Homo sapiens: one gene and its partners. The gene in region 2 interacts genetically with the main gene of each other region. Each region holds a gene or a part of one and is shown on either strand. Other genes may lie near its edges. The genes, in order: DBH, TPSAB1 and CAMK2G.

What was found.
Region 1: changes in TPSAB1 (region 2) and DBH together harm fitness more than expected from each alone (negative genetic interaction), as found in Homo sapiens cells (one large-scale study listed by BioGRID).
Region 3: changes in TPSAB1 (region 2) and CAMK2G together harm fitness more than expected from each alone (negative genetic interaction), as found in Homo sapiens cells (one large-scale study listed by BioGRID).

The regions. Positions count from the first base shown.
Region 1 is NC_000009.12:133,642,791-133,646,436, reverse strand, and holds part of DBH (dopamine beta-hydroxylase precursor), read right to left. Parts: intron 3,025-3,646; coding exon 2,848-3,024; intron 2,220-2,847; coding exon 2,117-2,219; intron 1-2,116. UniProt on the Homo sapiens protein: Catalyzes the hydroxylation of dopamine to noradrenaline (also known as norepinephrine), and is thus vital for regulation of these neurotransmitters.
Region 2 is NC_000016.10:1,239,520-1,243,184, reverse strand, and holds TPSAB1 (tryptase alpha/beta-1 precursor), read right to left. Parts: upstream 2,481-3,665; 5' UTR 2,457-2,480; intron 2,247-2,456; coding exon 2,186-2,246; intron 2,033-2,185; coding exon 1,861-2,032; intron 1,752-1,860; coding exon 1,486-1,751; intron 1,359-1,485; coding exon 1,195-1,358; intron 1,110-1,194; coding exon 945-1,109; 3' UTR 631-944; downstream 1-630. UniProt on the Homo sapiens protein: Tryptase is the major neutral protease present in mast cells and is secreted upon the coupled activation-degranulation response of this cell type. May play a role in innate immunity.
Region 3 is NC_000010.11:73,818,993-73,822,638, reverse strand, and holds part of CAMK2G (calcium/calmodulin-dependent protein kinase type II subunit gamma), read left to right. Parts: intron 1-908; coding exon 909-957; intron 958-2,993; coding exon 2,994-3,107; intron 3,108-3,646.

The DNA of each region.
Region 1 (3,646 bases), on a different chromosome or scaffold from region 2:
ATCAGCAGCCAGGCTCTGAGTACCGGCTGGGCTCATGGTTGGCGGAGGATCTAAAGGCCTGGCCCCATGCCCCCGGATGCATGGTGGACATGGTGGACATGGCGGACATGGCGGGGTGGTCTGGAGGGGCTGTGCAGCAGGAGGCTCTGCCCCCTGGGTTATGTACAGGAAAGGGATGTCAGGCGGCAAGGAGTGTGAAATTGACAAGGGGTTTTAATTCACAGGGAAGAGGCTTCTGATGAAGTTTAAGTAAAAAAACAAACAACAATGAAAAAAAAAGATATAAAATTCTAGTCACAAGAAAAAAATTAATGGGCCAGAAAAGCAGTCAGGACAGACACATAGCTGGGTGACCAGTGCTCACTTCAAAACTTGGAGCCGGGAGCTGGGGGGTGGTTTCATCTTCTTCATGCTTTTCTGCTGTCCATCTTCTCACCAGTGTACATGCATTGCCCTTTCTGATCAAACCAAGAGGGTGGTACAGATACTAACATCTTCCCTGGGTGCCAAAAATGCTCTAAGCATAACCTACCCCTTTCATGGAAGTTTTGCACAGTGAGAATCATCAGCCCTATTTCACAGATTAAGAAACTGAGGATGGAGCCTGAACTGAAGACTCCACACAAGACCACAGGGCTGGGAAGTGGCCAAGCTGAGGTTCAAACCCAGGGCTGTGGACTGGGGTGCAGGGCACTTCCAGGGGGCCCAACCATCTCCCTACTTGTTTCCTTTAAGATGAGGCCAAAACAACTCCTCTTGCCTCTGCCTTCTTCCCTCGACACCCCTACACCATCCAAACTCAAACGGCTCCTGTATCTCCAGGCTGATTACATCAGAGGATAATAATAAAAAGGGTGTTGCAATTGGTTAAAATTCAGATGGGGATTAAATCATGAAATAATTGTGGGATTTTGATATTTATAGAAAAGCAGCCCATCTCAAGATGGGTGAAGTGACAGGAGCGTCCTTATATTTGGCAAAGGATCCATAAATACAACCAGATAATCATGAAGAGACAGACTTCCCTGATGCTTCAGGAGTTTTCAAAAATCCATTTGCTTTCAGGGTTTAAATGAGCAATAAATCCCGTGTCATGCTAAGGCCCAAGCTGACTTATACCCTTCTCTGTGCATGTGGAGATAACTCCAACAGTGGCGGAAGGTATTACTTATGCAGCCAGGAAAAAAAAAAAAAACCACAGGCGACTGTTAGCTGAGCACAGCCCCGTGCCCACAGCAAGTTCTGTGCGTGAGCCTTTCCCAGCTTCACAATAGCTGTGGGAGGTGGGAGAACAGGCAGCGGGTGAGGTCATCCACCCAGCGTCCCCAAGGTGGTGAGGCACAGCCTAGCACCTATCTCTTAGGCCACTTCTGCACCTTGCACAAATGAAAAGAAGAAGCACCATTCAGAGAGAGAGAAAAAGTGTGTGCATGTGTGTGCTTCTGCGTGCATATGTGTACATGTGTGCATGTGTGTGTGCGTGTGTGTGTGCATTGTGTGCGTGTGTGTCTATATATGGTGAAAGATGCTGGTGCAACAGAGAGAGGGAAGTATTTTTTTCAGTTTCTGAGACAGCATCACCTGGCCTTGCCATGCTAAAAGCTGACCCTGCTCACTCCACCCTCAGGTATGGGTGATCCAACAGCAGCTGCCCCAGCTCCCCTTCCCGTCCCTGCACTCTGGCCAGGCCGGAGCGCCTGTGTCCTGGAATATGCCCTGCTTTACTACCACCTCCCTGTTTATGCACACACCTCTCCCTGTATTTGGAACTTGGCATCTGGCAGCTTCCCTTATGAAAATTCTCCTTGTCCTTTCCCCTGGGATGCACAGTGCTGCGCCGATGGCAGCCCGTATTATAGGGACGAGGAGGGAGGTGTGGGGCCACTGCTGGGCCCTGGCGAAGCTGTGAGGAGTGAGCCCCTCGAGGTCCTGTCCCTGGGAGCCCACCACAGCCATGGAAGATGGACAGCGGATGAGGCAGACGCAAGGGCCTCGTGCCAAGAGGAGCTGTACAGCGGGGGCACCATGCTGGGCAGACGAAGGGCGGGATTTGCTCACTGGCTCAACACAGCTGAGTCCTAGGGCTTCTGAGGAGGATGGCAGCAGAGCCGCCTACCTTCTATCACCAGTGGGTTGTGGTAGTGAACTTCCAGGCGGAGATATCTGGAGGACCCTGGACCCCCGAAGGCAAGGCCGGCTTCCTCTGGGTAGTAAAATGCCTGTGTGGGGCAAGGTGTCAGACAGACGGGTGTGTCCTGAGAGGGCCCCAGGTCTGGGCAGGGGCAAACCCAGTCAACTGTTGGGGCCTGAGCCTCAGGGGTGGTGGAGGGGGCGCAGCAGGATTAGAGCGATGCTTCCTCCTGACAGGCAGCTCATTACACGCCCCAGGAACATCCTGTGAGACTCGGGTCAGGGAGTTGGGGAGAGGAGCTGGTGCCTAGGGCTGAGCCTTCCCCCAAAACCCCTTCTCTAGACGGGTGTAAGAGCTGGGGAGACCCCCATCGTCTCAGCCTGTGGAGGCCTCAACACTGGCCCCACCGCCAGCCAGCCCTGGGACCACCTGTACACAAAACCCTGACTCCAGTTGGGAAACAGAATCAGGACCCACTGAGGGCATAAGGTCCTGCGGCACTTGCGTTTCTGTGGAAAATAAAAAAAAGGCTTGAAGCATTTCAGACATCACAGAGGCGAGGGGGCCACCTCAGGCCTGGCCCTTCTGGTGGCCTCGTGAGCCCCCTTGGGAGCCCCTTCTTGAAGCCTCTGAGACGGTGAAGCTGGGGAAACAGAGGTGTGGGGATGCCAGGGGCCCAGGCAGGAGACACCATGCTGGGGTCGCAGGGCACGCACCTTGGCACCCAGGGCCCAGGCGGCCAGCACGTGGCGGCAGTAGTTGAGGCGGTCGGGTTTCATCTTGGAGTCGCAGGGCCCGCTGAAGTGGGGGACGCTGTCCATCTCGGGGGCGCACTGGAAGACTTCCATGTGGTGGACAAGGGCCTCATTGCCCTTGGTGACGATGGGCTCGTACTGTGAGGAGGCAGCCCTCTGAGCCCGGGAACCGGCCGCCCACCCTCCCCTCCCCAGCAGCCCTCCTCCATGGGCTTCCGAATGCCCATCTGTAAAATGGGAGGGATGATCCAGACAATTTCAGGGGCACTTCTGGGGTTCACAGCCTTGAGGGTGGAGCCATCAGCCCAGAAAGAAATCCCGTAGGCAGCTCCAGAGTGAAGGAAATGAGGTTCGTACAGGCCAAGGCAGGGACAGGACGCAGCCGTCCTCATGCATATGGGGCTGTGGCCGGGCCAGCTCCTGCAGCCCCAGTGGGAGGCAGGGCAGCCCTGAGGTTAGAGCCCGGGCCCAAAGCGCACCTTCAAGGCCATGCCTCTTCCTGCTGTGTGACTCTGGACACTCACATAACCTCTCTGAGTGCACCTTCAAGGACATGCCCCTTCTTGCTATGTGACCCTGGACACTCAACCTCCCTGGGCCACACTTCCTCTGCTGGAAACTAGGGGCTCTTATGATGAAGGAGGGATCACCTCGCCCCTCCCCCGGGACTAGTGGCATAGTGGACACTCGACAGCTATCGCCTTTGCTATTCTGTCTTCCCCGGACGGGTGTTCGAGAGCAAGTGAGTTCTGACTCGAGC
Region 2 (3,665 bases):
CCAGCACTTTGGGAGGCCGAGGCGGGCGGATCACTTGAGGTCAGGAGTTCGAGACCAGACTGGCCAACATGGCGAAACCCCATCTCTACTGAAAATACAAAAATTAACTGGGCGTGGTGGCTCACGCCTGTGGCCCAGCTATATGGGAGGCCAAGATGGGAGGATCGCTTGAGCCCAGGAGTTAAGGCTGCAGTGAGCCCTGATCACACCACTGCACTTCAGCCTGGATGACACAGCGAGATCCCGTCTCAAAGCAAACAACTAGGCAAAGCACAAGCAGTGGACAGAGGGGCCGGGAGAAGAGCTCGTGGGAAGCGTGGGGTAGGGGCTCATGATGGGCAGCCCTGGGGCTCCCGGCGACCATTCTCTGTCTTGACCCGGTTGCAGGGACCTGGCTGTCCTTTATAATCAACTGAGTTGCCCGAGTGGCTCTGTGTGACCCGAATGCTGGATGCATCGTGTGGGGAGAAGCCAGCCTCGGGGACCAGGGCTGCCCAGGAGGCCCCGTCCCACGGTGACTGGCTGTGCCTTGAGGGCTAGGACCTCACACTGTGGCAGGTGTCCTCAGCACACCTGGACCCCTTCTCTCCCAGTGACATCCACAACCAGAAACACAGCGATGCACACCAGTGATTTCCATGCACTTTAATGAGGTCCAGCACTCAGGAGGATTAGCGCCCACCACCAGCTATCTGGGCAGGGGAGGGCTGGAGGGCCCGGTGCAGGCGTCAGGCTTAGGACAGGGAAGGGGGCTCAGGATAGGGAAGGGTCCTCAGGACAGGGGAAGGGGCTCAGAAGAGAGCAGGGGGCTTAGGACAGGAAGGGGCACTCAGGACGGGGCAGGGAAGGTGTGGGGGGCAGTCGCCACCTGGGTAGGAAGCAGTGGTGTTTTGGACAGCAGGGGTTGGTCCTCCAGTGACCCAGGTGGCCAACCCAGGCCTGACTCACGGCTTTTTGGGGACATAGTGGTGGATCCAGTCCAAGTAGTAGGTGACACGGGTGTAGATGCCAGGCCGGTTGGGCTGGGCACAGCCCTCGCCCCAGCTGACCACGCCCGCCTGCAGCCAGGTGCCATTCACCTTGCACACCAGGGGCCCTCCGGAGTCGCCCTGGGAAGGTCAGAGGTCAGCGCTCGCCGAACAGGCCTGGGAGTGGGGGTTGGGGGGCGGGGGGCGGGGGACAGGCGGGGCCCACCTGGCATGAGTCCCTCCGGGTGTTCCCGGCACACAGCATGTCGTCACGGACGATGCGGACGTCGTCTCCCGTGTAGGCGCCAAGGTGGTATTTTGCGTCACAAATGTGGTTTTCCATTATGGGGACCTTCACCTGCTTCAGAGGAAATGGCGGTGGGAGGCGCTCTGCAGGTGGGGAAGAGGGTGCAGCCTCAGGAGGGGGCCGGGCAACCCCCACCTGGAGCCCAGAGGGAGCCCAGGGGCTGGGCTGTGGCTAAGACCCTGGCCCCACCTCCACTGTCCCCAGACCCACCATCATTGTCCACATCGCCCCAGCCAGTGACCCAGCACGGCATCCCCGGGGGGAAGGTCTCTGAGGCAGGGGGCAGGGTGACCGTGTGGACGTGGCTGGAGACGTTCACCGGCTCCTCCAGCTCCAGCAGGGCGATGTCCGCTCCGATCTGGGCGGTGTAGAACTGTGGGTGCACGATGATCCTGCTGACCGGCAGCAGCTGGTCCTGGTAGTAGAGGTGCTGCTCCCGCAGTTGCACCCTGAGGGCGGCCAGATCCTTGACGTCCCTGGGCAGCGGAGGATCCCACTCAGGGCCCTGGGCAGCCCCCAGGAGCACCCGGGAGCCAGGGCTCACATCCAGCCCTTCCCCACCCCTCCAGGCCCCGGGAGACTCACGGTCCCACGCAGTGCGCTGCGGTCAGCACCCACTGGGGGTGGATGAGGGAGCCCCCGCAGAAGTGCATCCAGTATGGGCCGTGGACTCTCAGGCTCACCTGCCAGGGCCACTTGCTCCTGGGGGCCTCCTGACCCCCGACGATGCCCACTCGCTGCAGGGCCTGGCCTGGGGCTGGGGCAGGTGCCAGGTCAGGACCAGGAAGCAGCCCCAGGCCTGGGCCCAGCCCTTCCCTGTGTGGGGGCCAGCCCGACCTCCCCAGAACCCACCCAGGCCCTGACCTGTGGAATGTGGTGAGGGGCAGGGTGGACCCCGGCTGGGACTCACCAGGGGCCGCGTAGGCGCGGCTCGCCAGGACGGGCAGCGCCAGCAGCAGCAGATTCAGCATCTGGGGAGCAAGGAGGAGCATCGTGGGCCTGGCCGGGCCTCACAGGGCAGGGCTGGGGGCTACAGATTGTGGGGTGAAGAATGGAGCTGGGACGGGGGGACCGGGGTGGGTCCAGGCCTGCGGGCCTGGGTCTTGGTGCTCTGAGTCTGAGGCTGGGCCACTCTGCTCCAGGTGACGCTGATGTCAGGGTCTCTGAGAGTGGGGACTTACCCTGGCCGCTCCCTGTTCCTTCTACCCAGTGGGCTCTCCCCTCCCCATTTATCCTTCCAGATCAGGAGGGGGCGGAGGAGGGGCGCTGGGTCCTCCCATCCAGACTCGGAGGAAGTGGATGACTCAGACCCAGGGCCCCCGTGTAACACGTGCCCCCGCCACCCCGATGCCCTCTGTGTGTGGGGCTGCCAGGCAGGCCCCGCTGAGGGCTGAGCACTGGAGACTGGCAGCTCCACCTGTCAGCTGGTGGATCCCAGCACTGGAACCCACCACCTTCCCGCTGGTGGGATCTGCTCCTGCCCCTGTCTCGGTGCCAGGAGGCCTTCAGGCATTGCTGCACCCAGGTGGCCTGGCTGCCCCAGGCTACAAGACCCGTCGCTCCTGAAACCTGTTTCCCCAAGAGGGACACGGGTGAGGAACTCATGTCCATGGGCCACGCTCCAAGAGACGGGAAGGTGCCCACGGGGTGGGGACATGACGGGTGACACCCCTCCTACGGACTCCGAATCCACGGGGGTGGGGCCAGCCCTCCTCGACTCACTTGGTTGGGGGCTCACGTGAGACCCCTTTGTCAGATGGGGAAACAGCCTTGAGAGGGGACAGCACCAAGTGTCCTCAGCCAGGAAGGGGCCCTGCTCCCCACCCGCCGTATGAGACCCAAGTCCTCCTACGAGTCCTCAATGTCCACCTCTGGGGCTGTCCGTGCAGGTCCCCTGGTCTGCAGGTGCCTCCTTATCATGGGATCTGAGCTTCATACGCAGAGGGAAGAGCAGAGAGGAGTGCAGGTGCAACCCCAGGAGGCCCAGCCCAGCTCCCCATGGACTCACCCCCAACTTCAGCCCCAGCTCCCCATGGACTAGTCCCAGCCCCAGCCCCAGCTCCCCATGGTCTCATCCCCGGCCCCAGCTCCCTGTGCTCTCCATCCCATTCAGCGCTGACACTGTCCCTGCAGGTCCGTCCACCCCACCTCCCGACTCCCCTGGGCCTGTTGGTCACTGGGGCCTCCAGCCCACCTCCTCCGCTTCTGAGCCCCAGGACCCCCTGCCTGCCCCCCGACCCCCAACACAGGGCCACTCCGGGGCTCCTCCTGCCCCCACCCTGCCTGGGACCAGCCTGGTTTGGGGCTGACTCTGCACTGCGGGGCCATATCCATCTGGACTCCTTCCGGGCTGCACCCCCCGGGGGACAGGCAGGGGTGGCCCAGACCGC
Region 3 (3,646 bases), on a different chromosome or scaffold from region 2:
GAGAGTGATGAGGTTGGAGAAGCAGCAGGGCCTGCTACAGAGGCCCTTGTAGGAGTTTGCATTTTCTTCCAGCAGCAAGGAGAAGCTATTGGGAGTTCTTAGCAGGAGTAACAGAATCTAGTTGACACTTTAAAACACCACTCTGGCCTCATGATCAAGAACTCTAGGGAGGCCCGGGCGTGGTGGCTCACGCCCGTAATCCCTGCACTTTGGAAGGCCGAGGCGAGTGGATCAGCAAAGGTCAGGAGCTCGAGACCAGCCTGGCCAACATGATGAAACCCCATCTCTAATAAAAATACAAAAATTAGCCAGGCATGGTGGCAGGCACCTGTAATCCCAGCTACTCAGGAGGCTGAGACAGGAGAATCACTTGAACCCGGGAGGCAGAGGTTGCAGTGAGCCGAGATCATGCCATTGCACTCCAGCCTGTGCAACAAGAGCAAAACTCTGTTTCAAAAAAGAAAAACTCTAGGGAGGAGGTAAGTGTGGAAGTTAGGGAGACCATGAAGCTGTTATCATGGTTCAGGTGTGAGATGCTGGTGGCCTGGAGTCAGGTTGTAGCTGTGCATTGGAAGTGAAGAGGTAAGACATGGGGTTTACTTTGGAGGCAGAACCAGAAGATTTTATTTTAGATTGGGCGATCTGAATATAAGGGAAAAAGAGAAAGAGAAGGATTGAGGATGACTCCAGGTTTTAGCCTGAGTAACTGGGTAGATGGTGGCATTTACCAACTGGGGGAAGACTAGGGAGGGGATTTGGGAAGAGTCAGACAGCCAGGGTGGAAGCAGAACCTTCCACAATTCCTCCTTGCACCTCTTGTAGGAGCAGAAACTCTGCTTTTGTTCTGCTTTGCTCCTCTGGCTTCCAAGGGATGGAGCATATAGAAACATGTTCTTTTTGGCCTACAGGGCTCCACAGAGAGCTGCAACACCACCACAGAAGATGAGGACCTCAAAGGTAGGTGCTGGCCCTTGGAGGGGGAAGGACTCCAGCAGTGACCCAGGTACCTGGGCTCCAATGGGGCACCTGCCTTTTCTGTCCCCAGAACTGGGAATGCTGGCTCCTATGCCCCTAGGAGAGGGCTTGGTATAAAAGCTACTTTCCACGAGCCAAGATATGAGGCCCCTGTCTGGTGTTGCTGAGTTGGGCAAGAGGCTTCTCTTCTTTGACCCCAAGTCTAAAATAGCTAAGCTAGAGATTCTCCAGGGGCCAGGGCTCAGAGAACTGTTCCTGTTGCTGATAATGATGTGCCATCCAAGAACAGGGGTACCCCAAGTCCCTGCCGAAGTAGCCTGTAAGTGCTATGAGTCATAAATAGAGTGACCAATCACTCCTGGTTTTCCTCGGACACAGAACTTTTGGTTTTAAGACTGTGATGGGCCAGGAGTGCTGGCTCACACCTGTAATACCCAGAACTTTGGGAGGGCCAGGGCAGAAGGATTGCTTGAGACCAGGAGTTTGAGACAAGCTTGGGCAACATAGCAAGACCTTGTCTCTATTAAAAAAAAAAAATTAGGAACAAATAAATAGGCCAGGTGCGGTGACTCACACCTGTAATCCCCACACTTTGGGAGGCCGAGGCAAGTGGATCACTTGAGGTCAGGAGTTCAAAACCAGCCTGGCCAACATGATGAAACCCCGTCTCTACTAAAAATACAAAAAAAGGCCGGGCGTAGTGGCTCACGCCTGTAATCCCAACACTTTGGGAGGCCAAGGTGGGTGGATCACCTGAAGGTCAGAAGTTCAAGACCAGCCTGGCCAACATGGTGAAACTCCATCTCTACTAAAAATATAAAAAATTAGCCAGGTGTGGTGGCAGGTGCCTGTAATCGTAGCTACTCGGGAGGCGGAGGTGGGAGAATCGCTTGAACCTGGGAGGTGGAGGTTGCAGTGAGCCGAGATCACCCCATTGCACTCCAGCCTGGGCAACAAGAGCGAAACTTCTTCTCAAAAAAAAAAAAAAAAAAAAAAAAAATTAGCCGGGTGTGGTGGCGGGGTCCTGTAATCCCAGCTACTCGGGAGACTGAGGCATGAAAATGGCTTGAACCCGGGAGGTGGAGGTTGCAGTGAGCTGAGATTGCACCACTGCACTCCAGCCTGGGTGACAGAGCGAGACTCTGTCTCAAGAAAAAAAAAAAAAAAAAAATATATATATATATATATATATATATATAAATATAAAACCCAGATAGTCCTGGGAACACTGGGATGAGTTGGTCACTCTAGTCCTAAGATTTTGGCCTGAATGATGGAGTTGGAACTAATCTGACAACCGTGAGGCCACATTTGGTCATGTCCTGGTGGGCCCGTAAGGACCACTAGCCTAAGCTTGGGCCTGGCTAGAGTGCCAGGGCGGTGGGAGGGCATGGCAGGCTGGACCCCCGGGAATCTCTGTCCTGCTCTTTGATTGGGCCTCCTGGAATTGCTCCCTTTGCCTGAATTCAGTAAGTGACCTTGGGCCAGGACATCAGAAAAGACAGAGGAACACTCTAGGACAGAGCTGGGAGAGCATGCCCTGGGTGGCAAGGGGGCACCAAACCTTTTGGAACCAAAAAAAATAGCAGAAAGCTGCGAGGAAGTGAATCATAGTAGCTCCAGGCCCCTGTGAGTGAGGTCAGATCAGTTTTGATTCCGGCACTGCTGGCAACATAGGAGGCGCTGTCACTGCTGGGCTCTGGACCCTGTGGCCTGGCCCCCTGGAACATCTTCCCCGGGATCAGGGGTCCTTGGACAGGCTGTTGTAAGGCTCGTCTGGAAGCCACAGCCCAGGTCTGGGCACCTGCCTGGTGCCCTCAGCTGGGAGGCCTCTCTGGCAGAGGCGGCGGCGTGGGATGTCGTCCAGTGTCCACAGCAGCCTGAGGCGAGGCGTCCCCTTGCCCCGGCTCTGCAGCGCCATGGGCTCGGGGCCTGTCTGGCTTGCTCGCTCACCTGCCTTGTTCTGTTTGTTTTGGCTGCTCTGCCTTGCCCTGCCCTGCCCTGCCCTGGCTGGCTAGCTGCCCCGCTCCGCACTGGGAATGGCAGCTCGGTGCCTGAAGGACGGAGCTCCCGGGACAGAACAGCCCCCTCTGCAGGCATGCAGCCCCAGCCTTCTCTCTGCTCCTCAGCCAGTAAGTGTGAGGGAGGCACATTCTGGCTTCCGTCTCCCTGGCTCGTCCTGAAGCCCCTCAGGGACCCCCACCACAGCTGTCAGTCCCACCCACCTGCCCGTGGTAGTAAGCTCTGGGAGCATGGCCTCTGCTGGGGGTGGGGGGTAGACTGGAGGTGCTGTTGAGACCAGGCAGGGGCCCCTGAGTCTGGGGCCCAAAGAAATATGAGAAGTGTGGGTGGAAAAACATGGCCTGGGATGAGGGGAGTAGAAAGCCCCCAGGATGTGCAGTGGGCCTTGCCTCAGCGCTGAGCCAGGAAGAAGGGCAGAGTCGGAAGTCAGGTCTGTGGGGGTGGGAGTGGGATGATGGGGAAATCGTGACAGCGAGGAACTGTGTTGGGGATGTAGTGCTTCCTGAGTCTCAGCATAACAGTATTAAGAGCATGGGGTCAGAGGCAAGATAGATCTGAGTTTAAATCCCAGCTACACTGCCTTCAAGAGTGTGAAGTTTAACCTCCCAGAGCTGCAGGTTCCTTATCTGTAATGTGGAAATAAAATGGC